3 separate regions of the Homo sapiens genome follow, and regions 1 and 3 are each linked to region 2. The links come from fine-mapping of genetic effects on gene expression. A gene starts in region 2. Each other region holds a variant in brackets. All regions are shown on one strand. Distances are between the middles of the regions. Region 1 has its middle 27 kb from the start of YWHAZ. Region 2 holds the start of YWHAZ (tyrosine 3-monooxygenase/tryptophan 5-monooxygenase activation protein zeta). Region 3 overlaps SLEAR (STAT1 regulated ILF2 complex interacting lncRNA).

Region 1 (5,679 bases), 26 kb before region 2:
AATCCTGCGGTGTCAGCCTCCTGAGTAGCTGGGACTACAGGTGCTCACCACTGTGCCCAGCTAATTTTTTATTTTTTGTAGAGAAGGAGCCTTGCTATGTTGCCCAGGCTGGTCTTGAGCTCCTGGGCTCAAGTGATCCTCCTGTCTCAGCCTTCCAACATGCTAGGATTACAGGCATGAGTCACCATGCCTGGCTGACACCCTCTGTTTTAACCTGATAGGATGCATGTGCCACAGTCCTCTCCTCTGTTCTGTAAGTTTTAGATCCTAGAGCAATATTTCTCCACCTCAGCACTATTTTTCTTTGAGGTCACATAATATTTTGTGGGGGAGGGTGGGTGGCCCTGTTCATTGTAGGAGGATGTTTAGCAGTATCCCTGGTCTCTACCCACTAGCTGCCAGAAGCAACCCCTTCCTCCAACAAAGTTGTCACAACCAAAAATGTCACCAAATTTGCCAAATGTCCCCTGGGGTACAATATTGCCCCCACTTAAGAGCTACTGCTCTAAGGTTGTCACTGAAAAGAGAGTAGAAGTACTCACAATACTAGCTGGGTCCAGAGATGCTAAAAAATGATACAATGTTTTCAAAATATTTGGCTTACAAAAATCCAATCAACATGTACATTATTTTTTCAAAAAAGTTCTTAGTTAAGCAAAATATATTTATACATAAAATAATCCTTTTTTTCTTTTTTTTTTTTTTGAGATAGAGTCTCACTCTGTCACCCAGGCTGGAGTGCAGTGGCACAATATCGGCTCACCACAACCTCCGCCTCCCAGGTTCAAGCGATTCTCCTGCCTCACCCTACCGAGTAGCTGGGATTACAGGCGCCCGCCACCACACCCAGCTAATTTTTGTATATTTAGTAGAGATGGGGTTTCACCATTTTAGCCAAGTTGGTCTTGAACTCCTGACCTTGTGATCCACCCGCCCTGGCACCCTAAACTTCTGGGATTACAGGCATGAGCCACCGCGCCCAGCCAAAATAATCCTTTCTTAAAAGTAAATGGTCCAATTAATACAGATTGTTGCTAGGTATGAAAAAAGATGGCACCATGACCAACTCACGTTTAACCTCTTATTAAATACAACACTGAGAAGGTGATTTCTCCCTTGAGTCTTTCTTTGGAAAAGGAACAGAAGTTACCCTGACAGTAGATCAGTCAAAGAAACAAGTCTTCCTAGAATATGCCTTTACATTTCCTGTTCCCTCTGGCCCAAAAGCTTTCTCAAGAGAGTCATATGGTTTCTACCTTGTTCAGGAAACCTCTTGGGCTCAAATAATCCTCCCAGCCCAGCCTCCCAAGTAGCTAGGACTACAGGCACATGCCACCACATCCAGCTAAAAACTAAACATACTCTTATACAATCCGGCAATCACACTCCTTAGTATTTACCAAAAGAGTTGAACGTTTATGTTTACACAACAACCCATACACAGATGTCTCCCTCTGTTGCCCAGGCTGGTATAGAACTCCTGGGCTTCAGCAATTCTCCCACCTTGTCCTCCCAAAGTGCTTGGATTACAGGCATGAGCCAGCATGCCCTACTTGACAAATATTTATTAAGCACCTACCTAGCACTAGGCACCATTCCCAGGTGCAAGGATACAGGAGACAATAAAAAAAAAGTCTTCCCTAAAGAGAAATACACGTTTAAGTTTCTTCCACTTCTCTTCATGGCTGATAGCTCATTTCTCTTTAATACTGTATAATATTCCATTGTCTCAATGGACCACAGTTTATCTATCAATCAATTTCACCTATCAAAGGACATCTTGGTCCTTTAGTTTTGTCAGGGTTCTGGACTTTGGCCATTCTAATAGGTATATAGTGAGATCTCATTGTTATTTTAATTGGCATTTCCCTGATGACACATGATGTGGAGTATCCTTTCATAATGCTTATTTGCCATCTGTATACCTTCTTTGGTGAAGTTTCTGTTAAGGTCTTTAGTCCATTTTATAGTCAGGTTTGTTTTGTTTTGTTTTGTTTTTTTGACAGAGTCTCACTCTTTTTGCCCAGGCTGGAGTGCAGTGGCATGATCTTAGCTCACTGTAACCTCTGCCTTCCGGGTTCAAGCGATTCTCCTGCCTCAGCCTCCTGAGTAGAGTAGCTGGGATTACAGGCGCCCTCCACCATGCTCGGCTAATTTTTGTATTTTTAGTAGAGACAGGGTTTCGCCATGTTGGTCAGGCTGGTCTTGAACTCCCGACCTCAGGTGATCCACCTGCTTCGGCCTCCCAAAGTGCTGGGATTACGGGCATGAGCCACTGCACCCTGCCAGTTGTTTGTTTTTTTATTGTTGAGCTTTAAGAGTACATTTTGGATAAAAGTTCCTTATCAGATAATGTCTTTTGCAACTTTTTTCCAAGTCTGTGGCTTTTTATTCTCTTAACAGTGCTTTTCACAGGGCAGAGATTTTTAATAACATCCAGCTTATCAATTTTTTCTTCATGGATCATGCCTTTGATGTCATATCTGAAAGGTCATTGCCAAACCCAAGGAAGAAAGACATGGCCAGTTCCCTCCTTCCCCCAAATGGATTTTAGATTTAGAGGAAATTTCGATTTCCTCCTTTCTTATCTTCTAGGAGTTTTATACTATTTTAGTTTACATTTAGGTGTGTGATTCACTTTGAACTAATTTTTGTAAAAGGTATAAAGTCTGTGTCTAGATTCTTTTTCTTTTTTTTTTGCACATGGATGCCCAGTTGTTCCAACACTCTTATTGAAAAGACTCTCTTTTCTCCACTGTATTGTCTTTGCTCCTTTGTTAAAAATCAGTTGACTTGCCGGGTGCAGTGGCTCAAGCCTGTAATCCCAGCACTTTGGGAGGCCAAAGCAGGCAGATCACTTGAGGTCAGGATTTCAAGACCAGCTGGTCAACATGGCAAAACCTAGTCTCTACTAAAAGTACAAAAATTAGCCTTGCATGGTAGTGTGCACCTGTAACCCCAGCTATTCAGGAGGCTGAGGCAGGAAAATCGCTTGAACCCAGGAGGCAGAGTTTGCAGTGAGCCAAGATTGCACCATTGCATTCCAGCCTAGGCGACACAGTGAGACTTCATCTCAAAAAAAAAAAAAAAAAATCAGGTGACTGTTTTTATGTGGGTCTATTTCTGAAAGGGAGACTTTTAACTGCATATTGTATTATAGCTTTTGAATTTTGAATTATGTGAAAATAATAGCTACTTAAAACATTTAAAAATTGGCCAGGTAAACCAGGTGCGGTGGTTCACACCTGTAATCCCAGCACTTAGGGAGGCTGAAGC[G/A]GGCAGATCACCTCAGGTCGGGAGTTCAAGACCAGCCTGACCAACATGGAGAAACCCTGTCTCTACTAAAAATACAAAATTAGCAGGGCATAGTGGCTCATGCCTGTAATCCTAGCTACTCTGGAGGCTGAGGCAGGAGAATCACTTGAACCCTGGAGGCAGAGGTTGCGGTGAGCCGAGATCGTGCCATTGCACTCCAGCCTGGGCAACAAGAGCGAAACTCCATTTTGAAAAATAAATAAATAAATAAATAAATATAAAAATTGGCTCACGCCAGCACTTTGGAAGGCTGAGGTGGGAGGATTGCTTGGGTCTAGGAGTTTGAGACAAATCTGGACAATGTAGTGAGACCCCCATCTCTACAAAAAATAAAAAGTTAGCTGGGCATGGTGACTTCCACCTGTAGTCCCAGTTGCTCAGGAGACTGAGGTGAGAGGATCACTTGAGCCTGGGAGCTTGAGGCTGCAGTGAGCCATGATCTTGCCACTACACTCAGCCAGGGGAACAGATTGAGACCCTGAGAAAGAAAAGAAAGAAAGAAAGAAAGGAAGAAAGACATGGCCAGTTCCCTCCTTCCCCCAAATGGGGATGTATAATGTCTGCTCCACCGTTACTTTACATAAGTATCATACTCAAAAGTCATGTTCACTACATCTTATTTATCCTTAGTGTAAAATTGAGTTCTGTTGTTATTTGTGCAAAGTAAAGTGACAGATTGTTTTTGATGATCATTCCTTATTTTGAGAGTCTTTTGGCTTCTTTTAAGTTGTACTTCAGTGTTTCTTCATTTTTTTCATGTATTTTCAGCCATGTTTATGCAAAAAAAGTAAAGCTATCACGATGTGTAACCTATAATTATAAATAACAATTATTTCAGGACATATGTCTACTTAACTTGATAGCTAGCTTTTGAGAAAATGAAGTATAAATTTAAGTATTGTAAATCACAGAGTTTAAATGCATCATGGAGACATTCTGAGATGACCCTGTGGTGAATAGTTTTAATTTTTATTTTATTTTATTTATTTATGTTTTTTGAGACAGGGTCTCACTCCATTACCCAGGTTGGAGTGCAGTGGTGCAATCATAGGTCACTGCAGCCTCGACCTCCCAGGCTCAGGTGATCTTCCCACCTCAGTGCCCCCCGGTAGCTGGGACTACAGGCATGCACCACCACGCCTGGATAATTTTTTGTATTTTTCATAGAGATGTTGTTTTATCACGTTGCCCAGGCTGGTCTTGAACTCCTGGGCTCAAGCGATCCACCCACCTTTCCCTCTTAAAGTGCTGAGATTACAGGCATAAGCCATCGAACCTGGCCAATACTTTTATTTTTTAAAAATTAAAAATTAAAAAGAATCCTCTGCAAAGCAAGTAATTATCCCTTATTCTATCTTGTCTTATCCTTATCCTATCCAAGCTACATTTAAGTGTCACATCTGGTTTCTTGAGTGACATGATTAAAAATACTAAGTCATAATTAACAGTAAGGGCAGGCTGAATCACAAAGGTCCTAAAGTACACCTACCTTCTCACTACATTTGAACTGTGTTGGGCAGGATACATGCAGTGGCAATGGGAGTGGAGACAGGGAGGAAACTGGATGAACAAATGAATGAATGAGTGAAAGAACAGATAGTAGGACTATTTTATGGCAAAGCAAAAGTAGAAATTCACTTCACGAATCACTCCATCTTTTTGGAACTGAGTTCAAAGGGAGCAAAATGATGCAGAAAAACATATAGACAATAATCACTTCAGGCTACTTTGGGTAGCCTGACAGTTTTTTGGAAGACCATGAAAGTGAAGCAGACAGATCAGCCTGGCATTCAAAAATGAGAGATGTGGTTGGGCACAGTGGCTTACACCCAGCAATTTGGGAGGCTGAGGCAGAGGAATCACCTGAGGTCAGGAGTTTGAGACCAGCTTGGCCAACATGGTGAAACTCCGTCTCTACTAAAAATACAAAAATTAGCCAGGCATGGTGGTGGGCGCCTGTAATCCCAGCTACTCAGGAGGTTGAGGCACGAGAATCACTTGAACCCGGGAGGCAGAGGTTGCAGTGAGCCGAGATTGTGCCATTGCACTCCAGCCTGGGCGACAAGAGTGAGTCTCCATCTCAAAAAGAAAGAAAGAAGGAAAGAAAGAAAGAAAGAAAGAAAGAAAGAAAGAAAGAAAGAAAGAAAGAAAGAAAGAAAGAAAGAAAGAAAGAAAGGAAAGAAAGAAAGAAAGAAAGAAAGAAAGAAAGAAAGAAAGAAAGAAAGAAAGAAAGAAAGAAAGACAGAGAGAGAGAGAGAGAGAGAGGTGACAGCTCCTGCTATGGGAAAAATAATCACAGAGGTGCAGAGGCAAGCTGGACATGTTCAAAGTTTATACAAGTCGGCCAAAACTGAGACTCAAGGG
Region 2 (5,679 bases):
GGTCTCGCTTTGTTGCCCAGGCTGTAGTGTAGTGACACAATCACAGCTAACTGCAGCCTCTACCTTCCGGGCTCAAATGATCCTCCCACCTCAGCCTCCCCAGTAGCTGGGACCGCAGGCACATGCCACCATGTCCAGCTACTTTTTGTATTTTTTGTAGAGAAGGGGTCTTGCCATGTTGCCCAGGCTGGTCTTGAACCCGTGGACTCAAGCTATCTGCCTGCCTCCCAAAGTGCTGAGATAATGAGAGTGAACCACTGTGCCTGGGCTTTTTCTCATTTTAATGTATAGCATTATATATTGATGTATAGCTTTGAAGAGATCATTGCAGTCCCCTATAGAGGAATGAATCAATATTCACCCTCATCACTCATGTCTCAGCACTAAGAAACACAAATAGGCATTTCTATTTCTAAAAGATACTTTAAAAATATGGTTTCTTTCTGCTACTGAAGTTTCCTAAAAATCAAAAAGAAAATAGTTTCATTTTATCTTTACAATCTTTTGAACACTAGAGATATCAATCAGATATATCCATTTACAAATGAATAATAGCTAGGTTACTCTAAGAAATATATGTATGTGTATATTCGTTTAATCCTCAGCATCACCTGATGAGTTAAGTGTTTTTGTTGCCAGTATTTTATTGCCGTGGCTATCAAAGCACATAGAGGTTAACCAACTTGAGTGAGGTAAGAGTTGCGCATTGAAGAAAATACAGGTCAGGGTATTAGTGAAAGTCTCCAGCAAAGTTCCCAGGGTTCATAGGTTCTATTTATTCTGCTCTGTATGCCACAGGTTATTCCTTATTTCTTAAAAGATCTTTTCCTCAGGGCTTTCATAACATCCCGTTCCTTTCTTGCAGCTTCATTATATCTTTATTGTGCAGACACATTGACTTGAGTATGTAAAACCTAACAGTGCCTATTGTTGCACTAAAAAATGCCTTGCTATTAAAGCATGAGGCAAAAGCCTAACTTAGCTGTTTCCTGAAGTAAATCCATATTTATACAGAAAAACCCCTTAACTTCCTCTAAAACAAAAGGCATATACTCTACATAGACATATATTTGAGACATTAAAGAAACATCAATTTCCATTTTAAAAAAACGTTTAACTTAGTATCCTCTGTCAAATTTCTGGTGCCTACGAAAAAACTGTAAAAAAAATAGCTTTTGAAATATTACTCATTTTAAGTGAGTCACGCCCTAAAAGAATTTACTTGGGAGTCAAAGCTAGTTGACCCTAACATCTCAGAAATAAAACTCCAATTTGTTTATCCATTTAACCTACCATGAGTCTGTGATTTGGCAACTTGTGAAAAGCAACAACAAAAAAACCCACTAAAATATAACTGGTCACTGGAAACCCTCTTTCTGGTCTGTACTATCTAAATGCCAGCTGTCATGTCAGGCAAAAAGTAATTTGTAGAGCAGCCTTGTGGTCCACTGTATTATGTAGGAAAGACAATGTACTGGAAGAGCGAGGACTCAATCATTTCGTGTCTACTACTGAGAAACTAAATTCTGTAGAGAACATGAGGCTAAACGGAGGCTCTGGTCAGCTCAATAAAGATACGTTGGAAGAATCAATGGGGAGTTTACACAAGAGTAAAATGAAGAGTTCCAAGCTCTCTCATTGCTAACCGTACACTCTCCATGGCTGTTGCAAGTGGTTTTGCAGGTCATCCAAGCACTAATCTTTTCTTAGCCCGAACACATTTAAAGAGGGAAGGGGCAGAGATCATTCACACTGTGAATGTTTCTCTCTGAACTTCCTGAAGTCAACTGGGCGGAGGCCCTACCGGTTCAGGCACCTGCAATTTCCGCCTTTCTCCTTCCCCTTCTTCCGGGCTCCCGTCCCGGCTCATCACCCGGCCTGTGGCCCACTCCCACCGCCAGCTGGAACCCTGGGGACTACGACGTCCCTCAAACCTTGCTTCTAGGAGATAAAAAGGTAATGATCGTCATGTGCAGTATGAGGTCTTCACGTGAAAGCTTTATTTGGGTAGGAAAACCTAGCCTACGAGAAACGGGTCCGTGCGGTCACGCCTGACTGCCTGTCTCCGGGTCAAGGCTGCCAGGACCAGCTCCAGCCCTCCGCCCGAGAAGGCTGTCCTTTCCCCTCGGAACTCTGGCTTCCCTAAAGCGGCCGCGCCTCCTTCCAGGCCTCACCTCCTGCCGGCTCCGCCCGGCCCGGCCCACCTCGCCCCCACCTCGGCGCCCACCCATTGTCCCCTCGCGCAGTCACCGAGCGCAGATCCCGCGCTCTCGATTGGAACGCCTCCCCATCACTCAGCCACACTCAGGGGCTGGACGCCTCACTCCCGTTTCCGAGCCATAAAAGGTCTAGGACCGCTTCCCCCGAGCCAGCAGGTAAAGCCGCGGCGGCGGGAGGGAGGCCGGGAGGGGCCGCGCGCCCCGGTCGGCCCAGCCGGGGAAGGGGAGCGGCGGGCGGGGCGGGGGGCAGCGCACCACACACAACCCTCCCTTGCCGTGCGACCGCGCCCTGCCCCCGCCCCGGGGCCCCCGCCCCGCAAGTCCTGATCACAATGCCGGAGCCGCCGAGCCACCCTTGTCATCCTGCCCGGGGACGGCCCTGGGGCAGTTACTACCGCGAAGCACGGAGGGTGGGGCGGGCCGGGCCTCGGGGAGGGGTGGGGGGATGTGAAAGGTCCCGGATGTTGCTGAACGGGAGCCCCTTCCAGAGGGAGTGACTGGGGCAAGCGCAGACGGGCTGAGCGAAAGCTAAGGTGGGGGTAGGGAGAGAACGCCTTCCCGCCGGCTGAGAGGAAGAGTGGGCCGGCAGAGGCTGCAGGGGAGAGGGAGAGAGAGGGCGTTGGGGACCCAAAGGGAAGGCGAGGAGTGGGGGATTTGCGTTGGGGAGGAAAAGGAAAAAAGCAGCCTCCTGCCCTAGGTGCACTCGGGACAAGCGTAGAGGAGCTGGAAGCCGAGCGGGGTGGGAGGAGTGGCGGCTGCGGGCGAGGACGCGCGCGCCTCCGCTCGCCCTCCAGCGCGGGCGGGCAGGACGAGCGCCGGGGAGCGGCGGTTACGCGGGGCCCCGATCGCTGTGGGCACCAATCAACGGTTGCCATAGCAGCGTTTGACGTCATCGTGCGTGTGGTGCCCCTGCTGCCGGGGCTGGTGATTGGAGGAAACCCCGTGTCTGCGGAGCGGCTGTAGCCTGTGAGCAGCGAGATCCAGGGACAGAGTCTCAGCCTCGCCGCTGCTGCCGCCGCCGCCGCCCAGAGACTGCTGAGCCCGTCCGTCCGCCGCCACCACCCACTCCGGACACAGGTGAGGAACCCGGCCGCCGCCGCGCCTCGCTTCCTGTCCCAGGCCAGCCTTCCGAACGCGTGGGAGCCGTCCTCGCTCCGTCCCCTCATCCCCACTCGCCCCGCGGTGGCGGCGCCGGGCTGAGGCGGAGTCTCCTCAGCGGACACGGGCGGCGGCTCCTCTTCCGCTGGGCTCGGGAGGGCGGCTAGCGGCCGCCTCCGGCTCCTTGCTTCCGCATCGACGCCCCGGCGCCGATCGGTGCTCGCTCCCCCGTCCTGCCCCCGGGGGTGGGTAGGGCGCCCACACGCGAGATCCCTGGGGATCTCCCTGTCGCCGGCTCCCGAAGGTGGACGAGGCATGGCCGGGGCGCCGCCGGCCGCGATCCATCCCCACCCTTGTCTCTGCGGGCTTCCACCCCCTCCCTCGCCGCCCTTCTCGCTTCCGCCCGAGATAATGACTCGGCGGCGGCGGCGGCGGGCATCGCAGTGGCGCAGGTGAGGCCGCCCCCTCCCCTCTCCCTCGGCCGCCCCCTCCTTTCCCTCCCCCTCGCGCAGCCTCCGCGCTGGGCGCTGCGGCGGCGGGACCCGGCCCTCCCCCACCCCGGGAGGCGGTGGCGCGGCGGGGAGGGGCCGGGGGCCTCGGGGACCCAAGCGCGAGGGAAAGGCCTGGCCGAGAGCGGGCCGGAGCCCAGGCCTGGCGCGGCGGCGCCCGCCAGGTAGACCGGGGCGAGGCTGCGCGCCGGCGGGAGGGGAGTCCACTGCGGGGTGAGGTTTTGGGGTGGGGCTCGCCTGGGACCTAGAGCTGAATTTCCTGGGCTCCGCGGTGGGAGGAAGGACTTGAATTTTCCTGGTGGGGGTGGGGGATGGGTCTGACTTTTTTTGCTCCTTGTGAACGGGCGGGGGAGGTGTGGACGGGGGCTGCAAGTCCAGGTCGGGGTAGAGAACAGGGTGGTGAGCCCGCAGTCGGCTCCCGTGCTTGATGGACTAGAACTGGAGGGTCCCTGCGCTCGGTTTGGGGACGCATATCCTGCTTTGGGGGCGGGTGAGCCTGAGCATAGCCGCTGGTGGCCCGCTCGGCTGGGTGTGGCTCTCGTCCCCTCCCCCACCTGCAGCTGTCGGTCCCTTAGAGACGCTGTACACGGTCACCGGCGCTGATCGGTGGCGGGGAAGGCGCTGGGTGGGAGAGCGGGGTGTGTCCGCGGCGGGGCTGGTAGTGGTTCCGCTTCTGCGGGCTGCTGTGGCGTCTCTGCCCCGGGGTCGGGCGGCTTCGCTCCCCATCTCTCCCCCCCCCCCACGGCTTGGGCGGGGGCGCGGGCTGCTCCTCCCTCTGGCTCCGGTCGGGGGGAGGAATTAACACTCTGCAGTAGGTTGGGCTCCCTGACACAGATCCGCCATGACAAAGGAGGAGAGTCGGGGACTTGAGCCGTGGCTCCGACTTGGGCGGAGCCTGGAGGGGGGTGGTTGCGATACGCGGACCGGAGAATTTGCACTTTAAAGTCCGGGTCTGCCCGTTTTCGTTTCACAGTAACCGACGTCTCAAGTCAGGTAAGGGTTAAATGGGTGCGGTGAGTCCTGCCCGCAGTGTAGAGGCGAGGCCTTGGAGCACTCGTTACTGTGTGAGAAACCTTATCCACTTCCTCTTGTACCGAAGTGATTGGGGAGAGAATCCTTTGTACTGGCTTAAATCATTTTTTGTTAGAAGCAGAAATAACCAGAGAGCGTTTCTGAGATCCTAAGGGAAAAATCAGTAATTTAGAGACCTGACGAAAATAATGCCGTCATAAAGGTTAAATAGTTTACGTATTGAGCCAGTACCTTGCATCCAAAGTGGTTAATTATTTGTTTAAAATGTGGCGACCTGTTCTCTCATTTGGTTAAAAAAATATTGTGGGATTTCCCTGGGAAGGTAAAAGATGATTAATATTCGGGAGCCAGCTGCCAAGGTGGACTCTTCTGTTCACCTTCTAACTTAAAAGTGCACTTCATTCAGGGTGTGTATTTTCCTCTGAAGTCATTTATTCTGTGGTGTCACTGTGTGGATTAGTATCTTTGTGCTGTTCGGCAACTTGCAAAAGGGTATCTTTCCAGAAAAATGTAGCTGAGGTAAATCGAAAAGGTCCAGGAAACTAAAATGCGAGGGAAAGAGAATTAGATGGGTAGTCATGGTAAAGGACAGCTTGAGTGGTAACATCCAATTACATTATGATGGCTAGAAGCAAAATGCAGCACTTCTGCATTTCAACTGGAGCGATGACATTGGAAACACTTATAAATTAAGTACTTCCAATGTGATATATTCTAGTACTCACAGTAAGAGTTGAAGTGTCATGACTTGCGGATATTTTTAAAGCATGTGGACATATAACAAGATAAAGAGTTGAGACATTAGGGTCAGATATTGATCC
Region 3 (5,679 bases), 120 kb before region 2:
TATTCTCAGAAGGAATATCCCATTACTTCTGATACATTCTGTGCATTGAAAGTGAGTCAGTAATTCCAGACCACACTCAAGGAGAGCGGTTACATAAGGCATGAAGAACAGGAGGCGGAGATCACCAGGGGCCATCTTACAGAATGACTCCCACAATGTTTAATTAATGCTATTTTTATTATTCCATTTGTATATCTTATTCCCCAAATTATTCTCCATTAATGCTGCTACTAATTTCCACTTCTGTGTTTTGCTGCTGTTCCTTCTGCCAGGAATGCCTTCCTCTAAATATCTATGGTTCCCAATCCTACACATCCTTTAAGGCCACACTCAAATGCCACTTCCATGAAGCTTTGCAAATTGCCCCCTTACAGGAAGTACTTTCCTTCTCTGATGTCCAAAAGGGAAGAGTTTGATAAGGGAATAAGGGAAAGTGACAAATCCAGGCTATTGGATTTAGGCCCCCTGAGTCCATGAAGACACCGACTCTGTGAGATTCCAGAAACTTCTGTCATGGCTCTGCTTGTTCTGGGCTGGCTGAGCACCTACCCATTTGCTAATCCTTAGAACTAGGCTTCTCTAATAAACTGATATGAATCCAAAAATTAGAGCTCTTCTGAAGGCTGGACTCCAAAAGCTCCAATAACATATGCAGACAAAGAGCTATTTGCCCCACGTGGAGATAAAGCACTTGAGAGGGAAACCTAACTGTGGGTGGTGTGCTCGTCTTATGAATTCTCTTGTGGGTTTGAGAACTTCATCTTCCAAAAAGGCTCCATGGGGACTGAAAAGGGCCTTATTCCACCCCAGAATACCCTTTTCTAATAAATCCAGTTGTCCCAAAAGGATAAACTACCTAAGGGTGTCCATGGGTGTGGTGGGCAACTAGGGAAGAGACAAAGCCAGGAGTCCTGGATCCGAATTGAGCCAGTTCAGCCATGATCTTCAGCGGGGGGCATCAAGTCAACTTAGGAGGAGAAGAGGAGGAAACTCCTGGGTATTATCCACCCATACTGGGCACTGAACATGATGTCATTAAATCCTCAGAAAAGCCTGGTAAGGAAGGTGATATTTTTCACATTTTACAGGTGAGGAAACTAAGGCTCAGTGAGGTGAAATGGCCTGCCCCAGGTCACACCGCCAGTGGAACACAGACTGCTTGACTCAATGCCCGTATTCATTCCATGATCCTCTCTTACAAATGGCTGTAGGAGAACAAAGGGAAAGGGCAGGGTTAGGAGCCAAGCTAACTAAAGTAACTCCAAAAATAGCTATTACAGACCAAGCATAAAGTTACAGTTAGTTCTCCAAGATTCTAAGCCAAATTTTAGCCAGGCTTCCCTTATTGTTCCTGAGTTGCATAATAGGCAAATCTTCCACAGGGACGACTTGGGGGAAGAAGGTGAGAAAAGATGCTTAGTATGATTAATAGCAAGACTTCCACAGTCCCCTGACCCCCACCCCATTACCAACCCCACCTTTATCAGAAGATGCCTACTAACAAGGATGACACACACATCCAGAAAGTTAACAGGATAAAAAATCTAAATACTAGCTTCCATTCTTGCATGACTTGTCTCCTGCACTCCTCACTCTTTCTGTCCTGGCCTTCTGTTCTTTTAAGATTGGGTCAGCTTTTCTGTTTCAGGAAAGGTGTTTCAAATGTGTTTCCCAAAAGGAAGCAGAGGCTCAAGCCAGGAGAAGATGAGGGCCTCGTTCAAGGCTAAGACAAGCCTAAAATTGCTGATACCAATCCCTTTGTGCTCATCTCCCCTTGACAACATGGACTAGGTTGAATTGCCCTAGATGCCAGGCATGGTGGCTCATGCCTATAATCCAAGCACTTAGGGAGGCTGAGGCAGGAAGATTGCTTGAGACCAGGAGTTTGAGACCAGTCTGGGCAACATAGCAAGACCCTATCTCTCAAAAAACTTTAAAAATTAGCTGGGTGTGGTGGTGCACACCTGTAGTCCCAGCACTTCGGGAGGCTGAGGTAGGAGGATTGCTTGAGCCCAACAGTTCAAGGTTGCCATGAGCTATGATCATGCCACTACTTTACAGCCCGGGTGACAGAGTAAGACCCTGTCTGTAAGAAAACAAACAAACAAAACATTGCTGTTGAGCCTTTTGGGGGTATGGTATGGAAGGAGAGAGAGGTCTAGGAGTGCCCACTCAAGACAATAAGGTAGCATTGGTCTTTTGATGCTCTCAACTAATGTTCTTTAGCACAAACTCTCTGCCAAGCACTGGGCTGTAGGTACAATGGGACTCCAAAGGGAGAGAAACTCAGAATTTCAAATTCCACAGGGGAGATATAATATGCACACATAGCTTAAAAATAAGACAGCATGTTATAAATGCCATTTAAAAATTAAATTAAATTACTATTCCTTGAAAAGGAAAGAAATTTTGACGCATGCTACAACATGGGTAAACCTTGAGGACATCATATGAAGTGCAATAAACCAGTCACAGAAAGACTACTATTGTATGACTTCACTTACCGGGTACCTACAGTAGTTAAGAGACAGAAAATAACATGGTAGTTGCAGGGACTGAGGGGATTGGGAAATAGAGAGTTGTTTTTTAATGGA[T/C]AAAGTTTCAGTTTTGCAAGATGAGAAAGTTCTGGAGGGTGGTTGCACAACAATGTGGATACACTTAACACTGCTGAAATGTACACATAGAAACATTGAAGATGGTAAATTTTATCTTATGTGTATTCTACCACAATTAAAAATAAAAATTTTGGGCCGGGCATGGTGGCTCATGCCTGTAATCTCAGCACTTTTGGAGGCTGAGGCGGGTGGATCACTTGAGGTCAGGAGTTCAAGACCAGCCTGGCCAACATGGTGAAACCCTGTCTCTACTAAAAATACAAAAATTAGCCAGGTATGGTGGCACATGCCTATAGTCCCAGCTACTCAGGAGGCTGAGGCGTGAGAATCTCTTGAGCCTGGGAGGTGGAGGTTGCAGTGAGCCAAGATCATGCCACTGCACTCCAGCCTGGGTGACAGAGAGAGACTCTGTCTCAAAAAATAAAAATAGGCCAGGCGCGGTGGCTCATGCCTATAATCCCAGAACTTTGGGAGGCCGAGGCTGGTGGATCACCCAAGGTCAGGAGTTCGAGACCAGCCTGGCCAACATGGTGAAACCCCATCCCTGCTAAAAAAAAATACAAAAATTAGCTGGGTGTGGTGGCAGATGCCTGTAATCCCAGCTACTGGAGAGGCTGAAGCAGGTACAATTGCTTGAACCTGGGAGGCAGAGGTTGCAGTGAGCCAAGATCGCACCATTGCGCTCCAGCCTGGAGGACAAGAGCAAAATTCTGTGTCAAAAATAAATTAATTAATTAAATAAAATAAAAATAAATACAAAAATTTTAAAGAAAAAAACTACTATTGACTTACAGAAGGTGAAACAATTATGTATCTCACTGGGGATATCAAAGAAGGCTTCACAGAGGAGGGGCCATTTGAACTGAGCCATTTAGAAAAGATGGGTTAAAGATGGGCAGAAAAGAGCATTCTAGGCGGACAGAGCAGCAGCAGCAAAAGCACATCCTAAAAAAAAAAATCGAGAGATTTCTCTCTTCCATTGCACCAACCCTTAACAGAAAACATTTTTCCAGTGATCAAACTGCCCAAGCCCGCATGTGTGACTCCCAGCACAGCGTGGCTCTCCTGCCCGCTCCCTCTCTTCCTCTCATCCCCTCTCTCTGTGCCTGCCTCTTCCTGCCTCTTGTTCTCTCTCTCTCTGGTGTCTTTTGAACCTTCTAAAATGAACCTTTGACAAAAGTTTGCTTTTAGCTCAGAAGCAGCCTTCCTTAAGGTCTCTTTAATAACAGCAAACACCCAAAGACTCTCACACCTTTATTAACAGAGCTTGTTTTGCTGTTCTTTTTTCTCTCCTTGGATACCAGAAGCTTAAGAAGAAATTACCTCATCACCACTACAGGCAGGTCCCAATTGTAAAAACAGTCCTTTTGACAGACACTTCATCGCCAGTTCTCCCTATGAATGGCAGCTTTGCAGAACAGCCTCTGGCATGGGAGGAAGGAGAGAGCTTCGATTTATATTAATACTTGATTTCTGAACAGAAGTCAAGAGAAGAGTGGGCTCGGTGGAGAATTTCTTCATCTTTGGAGGGATGATTAAACCAGAACTTATTATTCTCCATGTAAATCACCAGGACTTAAAGCAAGAATCCTGCTTTTTCTGATGAGAATGGTAGCCAGGCAAGGGAAGGCATGCAAGGCTGCAGGGAGATAATGGTCTGAGCCCTGGCCCTAGGCACACCCAAAACGCAGGCTTTCCCCAGCAACCAGTGCAGCTGGGGCAGCAGGCAGAGGGTTCACATTATCAGGGTAGCCAGCATGGAGCTTACTCTCGCAGGTTCCCAGAGTGCAGACACGCCTCGTGGGGATGCCAAAACCTGCCTGTTAGAGCGAACCGATGTGGCCTGAAGTGAAACTCTGCTTCCTTCTGCCTGGTGTGACTCAGCGAGGCTGCAGGATCTCCGATGAGAAACTAGCCTTGTGCTTGATTTCTGCCTTTTTGTCCTGTCCATAATTTTTTTTTTTTTTTTTTTTTGAGATGGAGTCTCGCTCTGTCCTCCAGGCTAGAGTGCAGTGGCATGATCTCGGCTCATTGCAACCTCTGCCTCCCGGGTTCAAGTGATTCTTCTGCCTCGGCCTCCCAAGTAGCTGGGACTACAGGAGCACACCACCACGCCCGGCTAATTTTTGTATTTTTAATACAGATGGGGTGTCACTATATTGGCCAGGCTAGTCTCGAACTCCTGACCTCGTGATCTGCCCACCTCGGCCTCCCATAGTGCTTAGAGGCGTGAGCCACCGCACCTGGCCTGTCCTGCCCGTAATTTTTAATCATTACCTTTAATTCTGAGTGAGGACCCGTAGCCTTTTTGAGGATGAATGGTGCCAAGCCCTGAAAATAGAGCGAGCAGCATCGACATAGGCCCTGCCTCCTCTCCACAAAGTCGGCCTCCACGCTGAAGAATTCATACTGCCCTTTTCTGAATTCCTTCAGCTCAATCTAGACAGCTCTCAGGTAGTCAAACACTGGAGAGAAGGCAGAGCTCAGCGTGAGTCGTGAGTCAGGGAGCCTGTCTGGCCTTGACTTTACTGGAATTGATCACTTGGGAGTTAAGGGGGAAAATCTAATTTAGGGACCACAGTCCTTCCTTCGTGTCTATTCAATTACGTTAAAAATTATAACAACAAAACCATGGAATCTCAGCATCGGCGAGAGCCCCTGGTGTCATCTTGGCCAAGCCCGGCAGGATGCAGGAAACCTCCAGGGCATCCCAGCTGCCTTTGCTGGCTCAGATAATCAGACATTTTCCCCGAGAGAAGACTGCAAGTGCACTCCTTTTGGGAGTGAAATGAACTGTTCGGAAACTCTGAGACTAAATGAAAATGAAAATCAGCTTACTTAACAGCCTCCACCCATAGATACTAATGCCTGGCACGTGTGCCTGAGATATGTCTGTTGACTGACCAACTGGTTGACTGATTGATTGAATGAATGAGTGAGTGAATGAATGACTAAACAGAGTGAACTGGCATGGGGATCAAAGGGAAGCAGAGAGAGAAATTGCAGTGGTGAGAGGTAATGGACAAGTGGGAAAAAATGGGGAGACAGAACATTTTTCTCTAAA

Evidence for each region. PIP is the estimated chance that this variant, and not a neighbour inherited with it, causes the effect. A credible set is the group of variants that fine-mapping cannot tell apart.
Region 1: its variant is the best candidate, but not a certain one, in a credible set for the expression of YWHAZ in whole blood (INTERVAL, PIP 0.85).
Region 3: its variant is the best candidate, but not a certain one, in a credible set for the expression of YWHAZ in monocytes (TOPMed, PIP 0.81).

What each region holds. Positions count from the first base shown.
Region 1 is chr8:100,975,976-100,981,654 of GRCh38, reverse strand. No RefSeq gene overlaps it. Among named protein-coding and RNA genes, the nearest start is that of YWHAZ, 27 kb to the right of the region's middle. The variant G/A (reference allele first, on the strand shown) is at 3,277.
Region 2 is chr8:100,949,546-100,955,224 of GRCh38, reverse strand. YWHAZ (tyrosine 3-monooxygenase/tryptophan 5-monooxygenase activation protein zeta) reads left to right here and starts at 3,205. Exons shown (of 6, transcript NM_145690.3): 1 at 3,205-3,296. RefSeq lists enhancers at 1,721-1,850, 1,861-1,970, 2,250-3,108, 4,261-4,340, 3,967-4,826 and 1 more and silencers at 2,111-2,790, 2,811-3,070, 3,301-4,070, 4,461-4,680.
Region 3 is chr8:101,070,695-101,076,373 of GRCh38, reverse strand. It overlaps SLEAR (STAT1 regulated ILF2 complex interacting lncRNA), which reads right to left. Exons shown (of 3, transcript NR_033962.1): 3 at 123-1,205. Among named protein-coding and RNA genes, the nearest start is that of SLEAR, 21 kb to the right of the region's middle. The variant T/C (reference allele first, on the strand shown) is at 2,595.